Homo sapiens: one gene and its partner. The protein of the gene in region 1 purifies or fractionates together with the protein of each later gene. This does not show direct contact. Each region holds a gene or a part of one and is shown in the gene's direction. Other genes may lie near its edges.

What was found.
Region 2: the proteins of PTPRU (region 1) and GOLIM4 purify together in Homo sapiens (affinity purification with mass spectrometry; 4 studies listed by BioGRID and IntAct, with this or other methods). This does not show direct contact.

Annotation. Positions count from the first base shown.
Region 1 is NC_000001.11:29,252,179-29,262,040, forward strand, and holds part of PTPRU (receptor-type tyrosine-protein phosphatase U isoform 1 precursor), read left to right. Parts: intron 1-3,096; coding exon 3,097-3,228; intron 3,229-6,326; coding exon 6,327-6,598; intron 6,599-7,082; coding exon 7,083-7,164; intron 7,165-7,270; coding exon 7,271-7,386; intron 7,387-7,691; coding exon 7,692-7,866; intron 7,867-8,431; coding exon 8,432-8,725; intron 8,726-9,862.
Region 2 is NC_000003.12:168,021,710-168,031,571, reverse strand, and holds part of GOLIM4 (Golgi integral membrane protein 4), read left to right. Parts: intron 1-1,535; coding exon 1,536-1,792; intron 1,793-2,269; coding exon 2,270-2,349; coding exon of another isoform or gene 2,350-2,352; intron 2,353-3,734; coding exon 3,735-3,844; intron 3,845-6,476; coding exon 6,477-6,644; intron 6,645-6,977; coding exon 6,978-7,046; intron 7,047-9,862. UniProt on the Homo sapiens protein: Plays a role in endosome to Golgi protein trafficking; mediates protein transport along the late endosome-bypass pathway from the early endosome to the Golgi.

The DNA of each region.
Region 1 (9,862 bases):
CATCTCACCATTTCAGGAGAAGACCGGGAGCCCCCAGCAGTGAGGAGCCCCTTTGTGCCTGGCTCTTCTGGGTGTGTTTTTCTTTTTTCTTTCTTTTTTTTTTTTTTGAGACAGAGTCACACTCTGTCACCCTGGCTGGAGTGCAGGGGTACCATCTCAGCTCACTGCAACCTCTGCCTGCTGGGTTCAAGTGATTCTTCTATTTCTGCCTCCCAAGTAGCTGGGACTATAGGCATGCGCCACCACACCCAGCTAATTTTTTAATTTTTAGTAGAGATGGGGTTTCATCATGTTGGCCAGGCTGGTCTTGAACTCCTGACCTCAGGCGATCTGCCTGCCTCGGCCTCCCAAAGTGTTGGGATTACAGGTGTGAGCCACCGCGCCTGGCCTGGGTGTGTTTTTCATGTGCTACTTCACATCATCCGCATCACCGCCTAGAGGAGTTGCAGCTGCAGATGAAACAGTAGAGCCTCCTAAAAGTGAAGTCGCTTGCTGCGTGTGAAGATGCCTAGCACTGGGCCTGTGACATAGCACTCACTCCCCAGGTGCTGTTGTTTGGGAAAAGCTCTCTCAAACGGTGTTTTTCCTCTGCCCTCCCACCACCACAGCAGCAGTCATCAACACAGGAGGCCTCTGTGACCAAATGTGTGGGGGCTTCTCCCCACCACCAAGCAAGCAATTAATTCTGTAGCAGACACCAGGTGGGTGTCCTCCAATTCAGTTCTAGCACAAGAGTCAGATCCCATGGGTTGAGGGCTCAGTCCCCATGACTGCCTCCTCCTCCAGACACCAGTCGCAAGTCTGGGCCTCCAGAACTTCTGGCCGACCCGCTGCAGGTTGGGGTTCCCACGACCCCCTCTTTGAGTTTGATTAATTTGCTGGAGCAGCTCACAGAACTCAGGGAAACACATTAACTGGTTAATTATAAAGGATATTGCAAAGGATACAGATGAAGAGATGCATAGGGTGAGGTATGGGAGAAGGGACATGGAGCTTCCTTGCCCTTTCTGGACCCACCATCCTCCAAGAAGCTCCATGTGTTCAGCTGTCTGGAAGCTCTCCGAACCCTGTCCTTTTGGGTATTTACGGAGGTTTCCTTACATAAGCATGATGGACAAATGTGATTGCACATAAAACACCTGATCTAAACCCAGCAAGGCCTGTCTGCTTAGACTTTACTTGGCCTTTCCGTGGCATTCCTTCCTCTAGGGTATGGGGCAGGACCCTCTCTGGAATGACCCATGATTAGATTAGAGCCCTGCCTTGGACAGGTGAAAGGAGGACAGGAATAGGTCAGAGAGAAATTTTGTTTCCTGAGGCCTGTTTCTGAGGCCTAAAGTGTCCAACATTATAACATAAGACTGTACAAAGGGTTTTATATATATAAATAAATATGTATTATGTTGTGCAAAAGTAATTGCTGTTTTTGCCATTACTTTAAAAAAATGGCAAAAACTGCAATTACTTTTGCACTAACCAAATATATGTAAATATCACAACTATCTATACCTCTCCCTCTTCTTCTTGAGATTGGGAAGCAGCTCAGGTCTGCTCCTTCTGGTATCGAAACCTCTTTTGGTGGGAAGCTTGGACTTCATCATCTGACCCACATGGATTCAAATCCCACCTCTGTTCCCTAGTAGACTTGCATGGTACACATAAGAGCTGCTATTTCCTGAGTGCTTAAGTATGCTAGGCGTTGTGCTAAGTGGGCTACTACATCAAATCCTCAACAAGCCTATGTGCAGATAGGGAAACAGAGGCTCAGAAAGAGAAGCCACCTGCCCCTGGTCACAAGGTTTGGCAAATTGCAGTCAAGATTTGATCCCAAGTCTGTGATGCCAAAGCCCACTCATTGATCCACCACGTGGTGCTGTGGACAAATCCCTTCACTCCTCAGATCCTCAGTCACATCATCTGTCAAATCGGGAGGAGTACCAGTGGCTGGCAGGTACCCAGGACAGGGTCTGGCATGGTTTGCGCTTGCTTCCTCGCCACTTGCTTGGGCATTTTCCTGGGTTTCTGATGCCTCAGGCTCCTGATGGGGCTCCAAACACTAAGGTTTGGGAGTGAGTGCCAGGGAGAAGCTTGCAATTCCTTTCTGAACCAATAGTGTTCTCAGGTTTATCAGGCAACCAGCTCAGGCCTTTGATGAACTCACTAAGATATATGGACCTCATTACCAACCAAAGGACTCACATGTATTTCAATCCTCACTTCCTCCCCTCTTTCTCATTTCAACTGTTAGTACTGGTTGCAAATCATGGGAAGTTGCTTCATCTAGTCAGTCATACATGTGCCTAGTCCACACATGACTGTGCTTTTGCATGTCACATTCCTGCAGGCAGAGACCTAATTTGGCCGACTTTGGGCAATGACTGAATTCCATTGACATCTGTCAAGTAGGAAAAATAGTGGTGCCTGACTCAGAACGCGTGGCCTGAACGAGGCTCTGTACTTACGCCATTTAGCATTGTGCCCGGCTTGAGTGGATTGGCGGCAACTGTTGTTTTTAAAGGAGATCTCATTGGGCTGGATTATGGCATGCATGGTCCTGCCAGGCCCAGGGCCCACTGTCTGTCCTCTATGGGAAGATAGAGGGGCAGGTGACAGAACACTGAGTAACAATCCGGAGATCTCAGTTCAAACCCCACCTCCATCACCAGTGACCTGCGTGACCCTAATGAAGTCACTCAGCCTTTTGGGGTCTCAGTTTCCTTATCCACAAAGTGGAGATGATTCTATTCCTGATCTTATGGGTTGTTGTGAAGTTCCAATAATATAGCAATCCTGATAACTAGTTTTTGAGGAGGGTCTTTGATGGATGACTGAGCCAGTGGTGGTTGGGGGGTCCTGGGAAGTACTGGGGGAGTTGGCAGTGTAGGGACATCTTGGTATTGGGAGGGGACCTTGGTAGAGGGAGAGGGTGGAGGAGGGAGAATTTCACTAGAGGGAGGGAGCAGTGTGGGGAAGGGCCTGAAGAGAGGGAGGAGGGCAGGTGGGCCTGGGTAGAAGGGAGAGTGGGGCTACCCTCCAGGAGCCCTCCTGGCCAGCAGCCCTGCCTTAGCCTGGGCTAACCAGGCCCTGCTCTCACAGCTGGCTGCACCTTCGAGGAGGCAAGTGACCCAGCAGTGCCCTGCGAGTACAGCCAGGCCCAGTACGATGACTTCCAGTGGGAGCAAGTGCGAATCCACCCTGGCACCCGGGCACCTGCGGACCTGCCCCACGGTAAGTCTACTCTCCATCGCCATTACCCCTTCTTCTCCTTCCAGAGGCACTTCTACCCACCTGCTGTGTGACCTTGGGCACATTACTTAACCTCTCTGGGCCCCATCTACATTTGCATCTTTAATGACATACGTGACACTGAATGTGGCTTTCTCTGGACACTGTCTAATTGTGCATGTCAGCTAGTTTCGTGTGTAAAATGAGTGCAGGCCCTCATGGCTGTGAGCTAAAACTCACTTCCAATTACTCCCCTTGCTGCCTAGCTCAGGATCCAAACCACTCCCACTCTCAGTTCTTCCTAAATCCTCCATCTTTGAGAGGCTCTCTTCAGAGATTCTTTTCTCCCAAAGAGCCCCTGAATCCTGGTCTCTCCAGGACTTGAAGATGCTGAAAGAGCAGTAACACTGGGACTAGATGTGTATAAAACCTTCCTTCCTCTGCCCTCTTCCTCCTGGAAGTCCCAGATTCTTCTCGACTTCTACCTTGCTGTGTTCCTATTTCAAGATGGGGCACCTTTGTCATCCTGAGCTCTGGACTGGGAGTCAGGAGACTAATAATATGGATTCTAGTACTGACTTCCTGCTTTCATCATGGCCCCTAGAACACTCATTCCAGAGTCACGAAGACCTGGGCTCAAACCCTGTCTCCAGTCACTTTACCAGCAGTGTCACTTAACGTATCTGAGCCTCCATTGTCTTCACTGTAAAATGAGGCAAACAGGACTCCATTTCAGAGGGTCATGAGATGATGCATATAAAGTACAGAGCACAGGGGTGGCATGCAGGGGTCAGTTATTTAATTGCTATGGTTGAGGGTCTTTGGGGGCCCTGATTACTAGTACTGCTCTTCACTGGATGCAGGATCAACTGGGAATTAAAAAAGAATGAGACAAATAAAGGCCAAATTGTCAACTTTATTACTGATAAGGGCTGTGTCAGAGGACAAATCAAATGGGCTTTCCGAGTGAATCCTGAAATTCCACAGCCTGAAGCCCACTCCCTTTGCCCCATCACACTAGTGCCCAGGGTGTTTACTGCCTAGCTCACGTCATGGCTGAGATTGCATCTGTTGTCAGGGAGGGGCAGCAAAGATTCTCAGTGGTGGGGCCAGGACTTGAAGCCACTAGGAGAGAAGACCTTCATGACCTGGCACAGGCGCCTCCTGCGGACTCTCATGGCTTGCCCCGCCTCCCCTTCTGTGCATTTGCTCACACTGTGCCCTTCCTGGGGCACTTATCTCTGCCTCTGCAGGTGTTAGTGGGTATCACAGTTTGCCTTCTCTGAAAATAATCTGTAAAGGTACCCACCATGGCAGGGACCTCGTGTGGGCCTCTCCATATTCCCAGGGCCCAGCCTCAGTCTGATACATGGTTGGCAGTCAGGTACAAGGCAGCTGATTGGAATTCACCTCTTATAGTACTGACCACCCTGAGTGCACACTGCCTCTCTTGTCACGTGCAAGCAGAGACATACCCAGTGAGAAAGGGGAGAGGGGAATTTAGCAATTAGTGTGAGCCTTGTGCTAGGTCTTGAGGATGTGGTGGTGAGCCAGATGGACAGTCTTTGTCCTCCTGGTTCTCACATTCTAGGAATGGGAGCTGGTGGTGGAGGGAGAAGAAAGGAGGGAGATTCACACTCAGAGATGGAGAGAGGAGAAGGAAGAGCGACAGGGACAAAGGGAGTAAATGAAAGAGAAGGGGAGGGATGTAGTGAGCCGAGGAGGAGGCAGAGGGAGCAGGAGGAGGAGGAAAGAACAAAGTGTCAGATTGGAAGAGGGAGAAAGATGCACACAGCTGCTCGCAGGGAGAGGAGAGAGAAGTAGCATGAGTGGGCCAAGAGGGAGTGTGTTGGGGGTTGAGAAGTGCCCCTTCCTGGGTGGGGATGGGGACTTGAGTTTAGTTTACTACTGCCCTGCTGGGACTGATCCAGGAGCCGCCTCCATAGGGCTTCTAGCTTACAGAGATGAATGAGATCGCCTCCAGCAGAGTCCCTGGGGAGCCCTCCTGGAGCGGGGATCTGAGTGAGCTTGTGTTGGCTGGCAGCCAAGCCCGGGAGGAGGCAGCGCTGGGTGGTTTCGGGTGCCCTTTGGGAAGCCCAAATCCCCCCGCCAGGTCCTGAGCCAGCCTAGTCCACTTCTACTCCACCAGTACCCAGCCTGGGTCTCTGGGGAAGGGACAGGCTGCCTTTCTCCAGGTTGGAAGTCAAGGGGATTTGTATTCCAGGAATTTAGACTCAGGGATGGGGGCTGGAAGGGAAGTTGGAATCCTTTCATTCAATCTCTGTTCTACATATTCATTCAGCTTGCGTCCTGAGGCCTCACAGCCTGGTGGGAGACACACAGGCACTTTAGTAATGACCCAGGGGGCAGGAGAGAAGCCCAGGGTGGGAGGCAGAGGGAGGGCTTTGGAAGGGGTGGCCTTTGAGGGACTGTTGTGTGCCAAGCTCTTGACTCCAGGGATGAATGACCTAGTCCCTGTCTCCAGGGATAGCTCAGAACATGGGGAAAGCTGTGGTTAGGCTGGGCATGGGCATTGTGACCTGTAGATTGTAAGGAGCCATAATTTTTTTTTTCTTTTTGAGACCGAGTCTTGCTCTGTCACCCAGGCTGGAGTGCAGTGGCGTGATCTTGGCTCACTGCAACCTCTGCCTCCCAGGTTCAAGCAATTCTCCTGTTTCAGCCTCCCGAGTAGCTGGGACTACAGGCACATGCTACCACACCCTGCTAATTTTTGTTTTTTTAGTAGAGACAGGGTTTTACCATATTGGTCAGGCTGGTCTCGAACTGCTGACCTCAGGTGATTCACCCACCTCAGCCTCTCAAAGTGTTGGGATTATAGGCGTGAGCCACCGCGCCCAGCCTTTAAATGGTTTTGACAAAGTCAGGTTTGTGTGTTTTTTACTGCTCCAGGTCTCCTGTGGGAAACAGATGCTAGGAAGTGAAGGGACTCACCCAGGGAGGTGGAGCTGGGGCCAGAACTCAGAATCCCTGACTCCTGGTGGGTCCCGTTGCCTGGAGTCCTCCTCAGTGCTCCCCTTGCCCTGGCCCTGTCCCTCCCCTGAGGTCTCCTCATCTCCTGCCTCTTCCTCCTCTCTTTCCAGGCTCCTACTTGATGGTCAACACTTCCCAGCATGCCCCAGGCCAGCGAGCCCATGTCATCTTCCAGAGCCTGAGCGAGAATGATACCCACTGTGTGCAGTTCAGCTACTTCCTGTACAGCCGGGACGGGCACAGCCCGGGCACCCTGGGCGTCTACGTGCGCGTTAATGGGGGCCCCCTGGGCAGTGCTGTGTGGAATATGACTGGATCCCACGGCCGTCAGTGGCACCAGGCTGAGCTGGCTGTCAGCACTTTCTGGCCCAATGAATATCAGGTGGGCTGGGTTCAGTCAGCGGTCAGCCTGTGCCTGGAGGTGGGGCAGATGGATGTCAAATTGAGGTTGGAGTAGATGAGTGGCTGAAGTTAGAATGTGTCTGCATTCAGTATCAGAGGCAACCTGTGGTCAAGGCCAGGGGTCAGTCTGGGGCCAGTCTGGGTTCAGCATCTGAGGTCATTGTTCCTAGGAATAGCCTCTGGCCCAGGTCAAGGGTGAGTTGGAACAGTGCTGACCTGGAAACTCTGTCTGGCTGCTTGAGGGTAACTGTCCAGGATTTGGGTGGAAACTGGCCTCCACCTTGTTCACTATGGGCGCTGGGACCCCACCCCCAACTAGCTGGCTTGGGAGGGAGGGTCAGTGTGAGCTGGGCTGACCTCTGCTAGTTGAGGCAGAGGAGGCTGAGGCCGAGCTGAAAGTGGGCACCTCCCCAGGCAAGGCTGGAGGAATATCAGTATGATAGGGGCCCTCCCGCCTCCCCCAGGTGCTGTTTGAGGCCCTCATCTCCCCAGACCGCAGGGGCTACATGGGCCTAGATGACATCCTGCTTCTCAGCTACCCCTGCGGTGAGTCCCAGCCCACTGGGGGCGCAGGGGTAAGGGGTGTGGGCGGCCGCGGCTCCTGCCTGCAGGGGGTGCAGGCCCAGCTCACGATGCAGCTCTAACCCCGCAGCAAAGGCCCCACACTTCTCCCGCCTGGGCGACGTGGAGGTCAACGCGGGCCAGAACGCGTCGTTCCAGTGCATGGCCGCGGGCAGAGCGGCCGAGGCCGAACGCTTCCTCTTGCAAGTGAGCGGGAGCGGTGATCTTGGCTGGGGGCGGGGTGGGAGGGGGTTGGTGGCTGCTTCTGGCCCTGACTCCCCCCAGATTGCTGAGTCCCTGCTTCATACTCCAGCACTGCGCACAGCGTCCCGGCCCTCCCCTAGCTCTGCTCTGCGCTTTCTTGGGTCCCCCATTCCCCCAGGTTAGAGCGCGGCTCCAGGAACCTATGTCCGCGCGGTGTAGTAGGGACGGCTAAATGGGGCCCGGGTCAGAGCGAGATCGGGACCCCTCGCTCCGAGGCGCCCCTGACCCCCTCACTCTCTTCCCTGCAGCGGCAGAGCGGGGCGCTGGTGCCGGCGGCGGGCGTGCGGCACATCAGCCACCGGCGCTTCCTGGCCACTTTCCCGCTGGCTGCCGTGAGCCGCGCCGAGCAGGACCTGTACCGCTGTGTGTCCCAGGCCCCGCGCGGCGCGGGCGTCTCTAACTTCGCGGAGCTCATCGTCAAGGGTCAGCTGGTGGACGCCGGGGAGCGCCGGGACCTCACCCTCGAGGGGCGGGGCCGGCGACGGGGGCGGGCTCTGCCCGGGGGCGTGGCCGTGGGGGGTGGGGCCGGCAGGGTGTCGCTGGGGCGCTATCTGAAGATGGGCCTGTGGAAATGGCAGTGGCCCAGCCGGGATGAGATCTGATCTAGGGGTCGGGGCTGGCTTCGAGGGGGACGGACAGGGTCAAGGTGAGAGCCTAAAGAGGGGTGGGGTTCTGGCTGTGTGACTTCTGTGTTGATCCTAGCTGGCCTGCGGTCCGCTCCAGGAGGCGAGGATGTGGGGGATTAGGAGGGGCCTGAGAGAGGGGTTGTGGGCTGATGGGCGAGGGCGGGGTCAGCCTTTGGAGCCAGGTGCCCCTTAGGGCCCGGGATTTAGTGGGGGTAGGAGAGCGGGTCTGGTTGAGGGCTTGGTAGCAGCGTGAGAGGCCCTAGGAGGACGGAGAGGGATTTGGGTGTGGTGGAACTCAGAGTTGGGTGCTGGGGTCTCACAGCAGCATCGGTCCGCCTCGCCTCTCCCCCATCTCCTCGCAGAGCCCCCAACTCCCATCGCGCCCCCACAGCTGCTGCGTGCTGGCCCCACCTACCTCATCATCCAGCTCAACACCAACTCCATCATTGGCGACGGGCCGATCGTGCGCAAGGAGATTGAGTACCGCATGGCGCGCGGGCCCTGGGCTGAGGTGCACGCCGTCAGCCTGCAGACCTACAAGCTGTGGCACCTCGACCCCGACACAGAGTATGAGATCAGCGTGCTGCTCACGCGTCCCGGAGACGGCGGCACTGGCCGCCCTGGGCCACCCCTCATCAGCCGCACCAAATGCGCAGGTGGGTGCAGCAGCTACCCCTGGCCTCAGTCTCTGGTGGGCCCAGGGCTATGGAGGGGCGCATTCGAGAGGTAGCGTGGCCTGTGCTTGTAAACCTTTCTAAAACATTGTGATTTTTCCTCAACCCTTGTTATGGTAAAGATAATGATAGCTAATACTTTACTTTGTGTCAGGCACTTAAACATATCTGTGTGTAGACACACACACAAACCCATATTTATAGATTTAAAACTTACAACACTACCACGATGTAGGTGCTCTTGTCGTACCCATTTTAGATGTGACTGAGGTACAGAGATGTTAAGTGACTGGCCCAAGAGCACACAGCTAGTAAGTGGCAGAGATGGGATTGGAACTCTTGACTGGCTGACTCCAGAATCTGTGTTCTTAATTCTACATCTAGATAAAATAAGCAACTAAATACCATCAAATACAAGTATATTATACATTCTAGCTGGTTTCTCTTGTCTGGGTGTTGAGCCTGAGGTCTGCTCTTCCTTGTTAAAAAGGGCAAAGCAGCTGTTGGAGGATGGTACACCTGTGCCAGATGAGGGTCTTTTTTGTTTAATCAGAAGAGAAATTGAGAACACAATAGGTTTTTCTTTTTGTGACTTTAGTATTGTTGTTGTTATTATTTTTCCTTTTGAGACAGAGTTTTGCTCTGTCACCCAGGCTGGAGCACAGTGGCGCGATCTTGGTTCACTGCAACCTCCGCCTCCTGGGTTCAAGTGATTCTTCTCCTGCCTCAGCCTCCCGAGTAGCTGGGATTACAGGCATGCTCCACCATGCCTGGCTAATTTTTGTATTTTTACTGGAGACAGAGTTTCACCAGGTTGGCCAGGCTGGTCACAAACTCCTGACCTCAGGTGATCCACCCGCCTCGGCCTTCCAAAGTGCTAAGATTATAGGCGTGAGCCACCGTGCCTGGCTTAGTGTGTTTTTTTAATGGACTTACTAAGATAAATGTAGAGTCACATGCAGTTGTAAAAAAAATACAGAAAGATTCTCTGTGCAAGTCACCCTATTTTCTGCAGTGGTAACATGTTGCAAAACTATAGCATAATATCACAGTCAAGATATTCACATTGATACAAACCACAGATCTTATTCAGACTTTTCTGGTTTTGCTTGTACTTGT
Region 2 (9,862 bases), on another chromosome or scaffold:
TTCCTTAAGTGAGAATTGTGTGTGCTTTTGTTAGTTGGGGTATGGCAGGGAGGATGGGTAGTAGCTCAATGGGGTACAGACACTTTTTATTGATGCATAATATATGTATATATTTTCAGAGTATGGGCGATATTTTGAAACATTCATATAATGTATAATGATCAAATCTAGATAACCCATCACATCAAACCTAGATAACCCATCACATCAAACATTTATCTCTTTTTTATTTTGGGAGCATTCAAATTCTTCTAGCTGTTTTGAAATATAAGATAGATTATTGTTAATCGTAGTCACCCTACTGAACTACCAAACATTAGGTCTTATTCCTTCTCTCTAACTATATGTTTGTACCATTCATCAGTCTCTCTTCATCCCCCTTCCCAGCTTCTAGTAACCACCAATCCACTCTATCTTATCAATATCGCTTTTTTAAGCTCCTACATGAATGAGAATATGCAATGTATGTCTTTCTGTGCTTGAAGTTTTTCACTTAACATAATGGCCTCCAGTTCCATCCATGTCACTGCGTATGACAAGATTTCATTCTTTTTTATGACTGTGTATATGTACCACATTTTCTTTATCCATTCATCCGTTGATGGATGCTTAGGTTGATTTCATGTTTTAGCCATTGTGAGTAATGCTGCAATAAACCTGAGAGTGCAAGTATCTCTTCAATATAGCAATTTCCTTTCTTTTGGATATGTGCCCAGTAATAGGATAGCTGGATCATATGGTGGTTCTATTTTTAGCTTTTTGAGGAACCTCCATACTGTTTTTCATATTGGCTATACTAATTTACATTCTCACCAACAGCGTACGAGGGTTCCCCTTTCTCCACATCCTCACTAGCGTTTGTTGTTGCCTTTTTGATAAAAGCCATTATAACTGGGGTGAGATAATATCTCAGGGAAGCAGAGTTTTAAGAATTGCTGTATCAGATTTCCCTTTAATCAGAAGGCACCATCTTCTCAGCCATTCTTAGTTTCTTTGAAAAAAAATTGAATATCTGCTTTTCCACTATTACCTGGAATGTGGCTTTTTTTTTTTTTTTTTTTGGCTATGCTTAGCCTGGGATTGGTATATACATTACTAGAGTTAATTAGCATCCCTCGGTCTTTAACTGTTCATGGAAAAAGCCTTAGGCGTAGCATAAGGTCACAGATTGCCCAGTTAATGTGAAGTTACCAAAGTTACCAACTACTTGTTTATATCAGAGCCTTGTGAACATAAATTTTACAGTTTGAAACTGTTATCTTCGGTTGTCCCTTCTGTTCCATTTGAGAAGGGAGCACATTGAAAATCTGCCTTAATAGCAGTAGTTGGAAATATCAGCTGCTAAAAAAGCCAAGGGTGATTCAGAGAAAGTTGGGAAATAGGAGTTTTTGGACTTCATGTATAATCACAGTTCACCTGACAAATAGTCGTTAATAAACCAGCTCTGCCTCCTGAGTTTGTCAGGAGAAACAAATGAAGAGAAAACCCAGAGGAGCTAACCCCTCTTGCTCTGCACCAACTCTTTTTCACCCTAGGTGTACCCTTCAGCCAAGCCAATGATCAAATTCCAATCACCCTATGAGGAACAGTTGGAACAGCAGAGACTGGCAGTGCAGCAGGTGGAGGAGGCCCAGCAGCTGCGGGAACACCAGGAAGCTTTGCACCAGCAGAGGCTGCAGGGGCACTTACTACGGCAGCAGGAACAGCAGCAGCAGCAGGTGGCAAGAGAGATGGCCCTGCAGAGGCAGGCTGAGCTTGAGGAGGGCCGGCCGCAGCACCAGGAGCAGCTCCGGTAGCCTTCCCCTTCCTTAATGAACGAAGACAGCCCCTGCTCCAGTTTTCATACGCAAATTAAAAACAGTTTTGTGCATTTGTGATTCATGAAGTTAAGGGGCTCATATTGCTCAAATAGCCAAGGCAGGACAGCTACTTGAAAATTAAATACCAAATATTTAATTTTAAAAATAATATTTTTTTTCTGCTCAAAAGTGGTAGGTTAGGTCTCCAAATAGCCTTGCAGGCTTTGTGCCAACTTTATTTTATTTTATCTTTAAAAGATATTTTATCTTTTTAAGATACCTTTTGAAAGTGTATCTGGAATTTTTATTATACCTAATTGCATACATAAGAGGTTTTTAAAAATTTTTCATGGCTTCTTAAAAATGTTGAGAAACATTACTTATTACTGTCTTTAAAGATAAATGACCTATGTCAAACTGTGCCTCTGAATTTTGTCCCACTGGATTTATCATGTTTGTGTCTCTTGTAGGCAGCAAGCTCATTATGATGCTATGGATAATGATATCGTTCAGGGAGCAGAGGACCAGGGAATCCAAGGAGAGGAAGGAGGTGGTGAGACTTCCTAGATGATGAATGTTTTAATAAATTACTTGATAACATTGTATATTATCAGTGAGCCAATATTATATAACATCAATGAGCTGTATGCATACCTAAGTGCAAAGGAGGTTTGTGAATCATGTCTTTTTCTTAATCCTCTTAAACAGTACATGCTGGTAGTGAAAAATGCTCAAGATAATCTGTTTCCTCTCTATCATTTTCCCTGTAGTTTAAGCTTTTTATATACTAAATATTTATAATATTTCTGACAAATTATTATAGGATTATTATGCTTTGGGAAACATCTGCATTTTCTCCTTACCTTGGAAGTCCTCACATCATTGCCTTAAAATGTTTTCAAATTAAGTCAATAGTAGCTTTCATTTATGATAAGCACTTAATATGTAATTTATCAAATATTGCTTACTGTTATAATAGAACCAGAATGTAACTTACTGTCTCTCTGGCACCACTAACACTTAGATGTGTATCTTTTTCTAAAAAGTCAGAAAGAAAGTGATTACATACAACCTCCCTCAATAGCCCGTTGTGATATCTTACAGCTCTTACAGTCAAGAAATTGTTTTCCTTATGTCCGCCATGTGGCACTTTAAGCTTTTTTGTTCTCATATCAGTAAGACTAGAGAATGGCTTGTCCTCTTCTCTATGTAGTAAACCCCTTTGTGCACTTGAAGGCTGATGGTAAGTTACCCCGTATCATCATTTTCTCTAGGCTTAGTACACTCCATATACTTAAACTTTCCTCTTCTATCTTACTTGTTTTAAAAAGTGATTTGTTCTTCTCTTTTTGTGCTCATACAATTCTCTTTATCTAAATATTTTTTCAAAAAGCAGCAAGTAAATGTCTGAGTATGAATGTGTGCTGTTTCTGGGCTGTGGCGGTCATCATCATTACTGTGATGACATCAGAAAACATGTGATGGGCTATATTTGTTTCTGAGCTCCACAGATGGGGCAGTTCTTCCTTGCATTTCCTGAAACTATCAATTTCTTCTTTTGGAGCCCAGCTACTTCCTCTGATATTATCAAACATTAGTTGATTTCTTCAGCAGTGTCCAATCAACTGGGCTTTCTTTTATTGAGAGAGTTTTGATTGTTGTTGTTTTCTTGCATATGGGGGAAAAATTACAGCTCCTGTGAAAAATATTTATTTTAGAAGAAAAGTGTCTGACCCATATCATCTCTCTAGACACACAGTCTGTGAAGAGAACATAACCTTATTCAGAAAAGCCAGGACATAGGCCTTATGTTGAGTTAACAGAGGTGGAGGTATTGTAGTCTGTAGAAAAGTCCACTGGTGGCTTTTCTTTGAGTTGAAAGGGAAATCCTGTTTGATTCATTTTGGGCTGATTTTAGTTCCTTTGATTTGCTAGCCTATGAAAGAGACAACCAGCACCAAGATGAAGCAGAAGGAGATCCAGGTAATAGACATGAGCCTCGTGAACAAGGACCCCGAGAAGCCGACCCAGAATCTGAGGCAGATGTAAGTATCCTCTCTTCTGCCCCTGACACATGTAAACTCATAAGGTGGGAAAGAGAGTTGAAAACTTGCCTGATGCCAGCCTTCAGCCCCAGATATTTCTGTTATATCCTCAGCCCAGAAGGAAAATGGCTTGCATAATTATATATGGGCAGTGTTTTTAACTGTAAACCATGGTGTACGTGTATGTGATGAGCTGGTTTAAAAGTTGCTCTGGGGGAAAAAAAAAAACAAAACCAGGATTTTTTTTTTCTGATGACTTTTAGATTAATAAAACTAAAACCTAGAAAAGCAAAACTGAGAGACACTGAAATATGTAGTAACTCTGAAAGCTAGGAGGAATAAAAGGCAAGTGTGGAAGTTGGAGATGGGACCAGAGAAAGGAAACTAACCCTTCCTGAGCATGTTGAGCAGTCTGCTAGAGTGTTAGGTATTTGTGTGACTCTCTGTAATCTCTTAGCAGTCTAGTGACCATTTTAATAAATATATGGATAAGGATATGTGGTCTGAGACATGAAGAGTTGTTCAGGTATGCAATGGTACAGAAAATTTATAATATAAGTAGGTAGACATCTAATAACCAGCATTGTTGTTTGTGTTTACCAAAAAAGACTGAGACCTCTAGTTCAGCTGGGTGGGCTAGATCCTTGGCCCTGCCTACAAGTGAAGCAAGCAAATGTTTAGTGAGTCTGTTCCTGCGTGTATGCGTAGATGATTTTTACAGCTTATTTTAGCTGCCCTGTCATCTCTTGCTAATAGATCAACTACCATGTTTATAACAGTCGGTCTGTGCTATGTCACATGAGCCCTGATTAAAAGGAGGACCCATGTCCTTGCTAATCATCAAGAAAGTCATCCTGCTAGCTACTTAAAGCCCTTTTGCTGGAAACAGCTTTTCCACTTAACTTGCACTGAGATGTGGCAGAACACCTTTCCCTGGCATTCCTTGCATCAAGATTTCTGAAAATATGCTCCAGGGAACCTAGTCCTGAAATATTTTCAGGAAAAGGCTAATACTTGAGAGCAGAAACATATGAGAGAGCAAGAGACTATCCAGGAGAGAGCAAGAAAGCAAGTGTACAAAGGCCTGCAAATGTGCATGGGGTGGGAGGAAGGGCATTTCAGTCACTTGTTTGGGAACTGCTGTAGGCTTTGATTTCTTGACTATATGATCCTTTACTTTCCTGTCATCTGTTTGTTTGTTTTGGGGAACATGCTGGGAAACATTGGCCTTTGTACCATTCTTCCTTTTAATTAGAAATGGTTAATCCCACTTGTTCCTCTCTTTCTGTTTTATTTGAACGTAACAACTGTGCCTGCTAATTCATACCTGTTACGTGGTCGGAGTTGAGCTAGTCAATTTTATGAACGTTTGCAAAAGATATTTGGTACTTTTTTCTGAAAAGAATATGTTACATTTTTCCTGTAATTCCATACAAATTTTTGATAGTGCACTAAAGAAAATCCATATGACAAGAGATTGTGGAGTAATTAGAGTTTAGTGTGAAGGTGGTAATTTGGTAGTCTCTACGTTCCCAAGAATAGTGTCATTTGCACTGGAGTAACATTCATGGCCAGGGATGTGCAGATAATAGATCAGCTGAGATGGCAGTGAACTCTCAAACATGTTCAAGACTCCTAAGTGAATTGAAGTAGAATCTTGTCTGGAGAATACTGATAGAGACCAAATCCTACTCTGTGGCTTTACTGTCTCTTAGAAGCATTTACAGCTTAGTAAGTGTCCTATTGATGACCTGCGAGTGATTGGGGAAGCTCATGACAAGCATCACTGTTCCTCTCCATCTCAGGCTCTAAAATCTAAATCTTTATTAGGATGTGTATTATTTGGAAGGTGCTTTGGGAGCTTAAGTGGAAAATTGAAATAATTCTAAAGTTGATAATATGAAGGGCCTTTGTTGAGCACAGTAATTTGGGAGATGAGTTGGGAGGACATTTTTCATAATATATTGCCCTATTGGGCAGTTGGGTAGCTCAGCCCTTTTTAACTCCCATCCCTCGCCAGTTCAGCATCTCTCTGTTTCATGGGAATGATTGTTAATAAAGAAATTGGATCCATACTAGAAAATGACCATTTCCTTTTGAATTAGCCTTTTTCTTGTCTCCTTTTCGTATCCTTTTTATGGGTCCTTTCTGGTATGGGCCTTCTTTCCCATCAACAACTTTTCACCTGCTGACATGTTAAAAATTGCTTGCACAGGGAAGTTACTATAAAAATCAACATAGCAAAAAGAGTTAATTGCCCATCTAAATCCCCCACCTAAATTAGTATTTTTTTTGTCACTTGGTCCTCTGACTTTTATTAATTATTTTCTTGTTTATTCAGTTCTGTTCACATTACTTGTGTCAGTAGAGTTTTGAGAACTATTTTGAAATCACTTGCAGGAAAGAAGTGCTATTTGAACCTCATTCTGATTCATCAAGCCTCTGACAAGTAAAGCAGGAGTTTTCTCTTTTGACAGTGTGATGCTTGATTCTTGTGAGTCTTGGCAAGGATAGATCTGAACAATTGAGGGAAGGACAATTTCATTTTCTGCCAGTGGGCAGCCTTTTCAAATGAAATTAAACTTGATCCTCAGTTTTGAAGTGATAGTTGCTTTTTATTAAAATTTTACAGAGGGCAGCTGTAGAAGATATAAACCCAGCAGATGACCCTAATAATCAAGGTGAGGATGAATTTGAAGAAGCCGAGCAAGTGAGAGAAGAAAATTTGCCAGATGAAAATGAAGAGCAAAAACAAAGTAATCAAAAGCAAGAGAATACAGAAGTGGAGGAACATTTGGTGGTAAGCAGATGCCACGAGGAAGGGTGGATTTAACTGGGCTATTTTAAGAAACATCTGGTTTATGTAAAAGGTTAGTCATATTCCACATTGACGGAAGGTTTGCCACTTCGGTGGTTTTTAGGCCACTTTATGACATGATATGCCTGTACTCTGAGAGAGAGGGTAACGGACATCCTGGGCTTTGTATTGGGAATGATTACTCATCATTTCCTGGCCACAGACGCTTTGAAAGTGCCCTTTTCATGGTGGCATGCTTGTTCTTTGTCCCAGAGTACTGTGTAAAAGGCATCTCTGATGTACAGTAACATGAACCTGCCCTTTTGTTTCCAACAGATGGCAGGAAATCCAGACCAGCAGGAGGACAATGTTGATGAACAGTACCAGGAAGAGGCAGAAGAGGAGGTAGTAAGGATTGAATCCCAGAGACTGATCAGATTGGTCTGTCACACACACTAACCTTAAACAAACCTCAGCAGTATTGACTTTGACATGCCTTCCACAGAAATGTTCAGAAAAATTTAAGCAGGATAAGAAAGGGTGGTTTAAAGCAAAAATGGATCATGGCACTGGAGACATTTGGTTAGAAGATAACAAAAGCAGGGTAATAGAATCCATCTCTTTGGTTCTCACCTGAAATTTTGAATTAAGAAGGCATTTGGCTTTCCAGGAATGGTGGACTTAGATTTGTGCAATCTTTTGTAAGAATATTTTCTCCTCTCTCCCTCTGCACATTGAGGGAATCTGGACTGCCCCTGTAACTTTCTCTTCAGGCATCTCCCCAGTGCCTACCTCACAGGAATACCCCATAGTGTCTATCGGAATCCACTTAACACCCTCCAAACATTTTTGTAAATTTTACAGTCTCTCCTTCTGGCCTCTTCCTTCTTAAGAATTCAGTATCTTAATTAAATTTAACAATAAAAGAGGAGGAAAAAGATGTAAAGAGCTCAGCTGAATAAAATGCATTTGGATAGAGTTTCTTAATATTTTAGTTTGCTTTTCATTGTAAACTTCGGGCATCTTGTTGTTAATTAGATATAAGTAGCGTTTATTGTGGTGCTGCTTACGGTGTAGTTGATTATTGTGGTGCTGCATGTGGTGTAATTGGTGAATGCTGCTTGTTGTAGCCGTTTTATCACAGCATTCCGCTGCATAAACAACTGCAATATTTAAGAGTCTGATACAAATTAGGCCAAGACCCTGTATTTAGTCTCATTATGGACCAGTAAGTAGTTCCCAAATTAAAACCCTGGTTCAGAGCTGCTTCTCAGCCAGGTGTCTTGCAAATGTGTGGTTTTATCCCTATGGGGAACCCCATGGGAGGATGGACATATGGCAGACTGAACAGACACACCCCATCACTGGAGATCCTGTGCAGAAATCATGAGCTGTGCTCTCACACACACAGTTCCCTCGACTAGGTCTGCTTTCTTGTTCTTACTGATTTTGTAAGCTTTTCAGAGCTGATGATAAAATTTGTGCTTATACCAGGAAAACAGAAAAGGATGTTGCTCTTTAAGGTCACTGGCAACATTTCTAATAACATGCACTTTAACTGGCTTGATCTTTTTGTTCTTTGGTTTCTCATCCTAATCAAGACCCTTGGCTGTCTTGTCAGAAAGAGAGCAGCAGAGAAAATAGTGACCTTGAATATTAAGACATTGGGCAAGAAAAAGATATTCATCCAGGCTTCTCATATAACAGGATGTCTAGACTAATACCACTTTGTTTTATTATGTCCAATACTAGGAATCTTTGAGGGATTAAAAGAGAAAAGTTCACCTTGGCTTCTTTTTTAAAAATTCAGAAGATTAAACATAAAATTTTAACCAGTGTTTACTGATTCCTTTTCAATTTTATATTATGATCAGTTAAGGTACAGGAGAGAAATCCTGAGATCCAAGAGGAATCAAGAGTAGAAAGAGAAGAAAGAGGCAAGAGGAAAGGAGAAATGGTGCTAAGACAGAGGAGGTTGCCCTGGCTGAGTGCTGCCTAAACTCAGCAACTGCTCCTCATCCCACCAGTCATCCCCTTCAGATCTGCTGGACTGACAGGACTCTTCCTCTTGCTGCACCTGGCCCCAGGTCCTAATTCGGTTTACCTGGTTCCCTGCCAAAAATTCTTAAAGCAGTGTTCAGGCCTCCTCCAGCATGTGCTCCAGGTTACCACCCCATCACTGAGAACTGTTGCTCCATGTGCTCTTAGTGGAAGTCCCACGTGCCTTTTTTTCTTCCCAGTGTAAACTTTCCTCTCTGCCCCCGAGTGTCCCTTGTTCATGTTGTGTTGTATTTTTGTGTGTGGTTATGAGATGATTAATGTTTGCATCTTCCCACCTCTGTCCATCGTTCCCAGGTCTTCCCTTGAGAGAGGAGAAGAGTGGTTCCCAAATACCATTTAAGCACTAGTGATAGAGACAAAGTTCTTGTCAGACTATGGCAAAATGAGAAAAATAAAGGGGAACATAGAATATGGAAACACATACTGCATTGTTTATAAGTGCATATGTGTATGAAACCTCATTGGTGGAAGCACTCTGAAAAACCATGAAATGTTGTGGAACTGTGCATTATTGTTGTTGTTGTTTTTTTTTTTTTAATCTCCATTTAACCTTAGAGTCTTGCAGCTGCCCCAGCTAACCACTAGAATGCAAGGCCTGTGGCTGCCATCGCTTCCCTTCCTCTCCAGCGCACAAACTTATTTCTGTCAGCATTTCCTCCTGGGGAAGAATTGCCTCTTGCCTGGGCCACACCTGTTCAGAGGTATAGCCCATCAAACTTACAGACTTGGCCTCTAAGAGGACCCAAAAGAAGTATGATTTTAGGAAATTTATACTACTCTGCCTTCTTTTATCTTAGTGCAGTAGTGTTATCTTTCTAAGACTTACAAGCATTTCTTGTTTCTTGTTTGGGATTGTTTGAATGGAAGGCATGATCCCTTCCTTACGTTGCTTACATTCCAAACGTTTTATCGCCTTGTAAGCAAACAAGACAATTTATGGCATTGCCAAAAAGTGCCGTGTAAGCTTTAAAATTACTTACATGTTCAAAAATATATAGATTAAATGACCAAGAAATCAGAATACTTTAATTTCCCTCAGTGTAACTGAAAACTGATTAATCTGAACATGCAGAAGAGAATAAGTACAAGGCATTTGTTCACCTTCACTGGCCAAATATGTACGTACACCTACATGAGACTACCAGCCTGTGAATCACCGT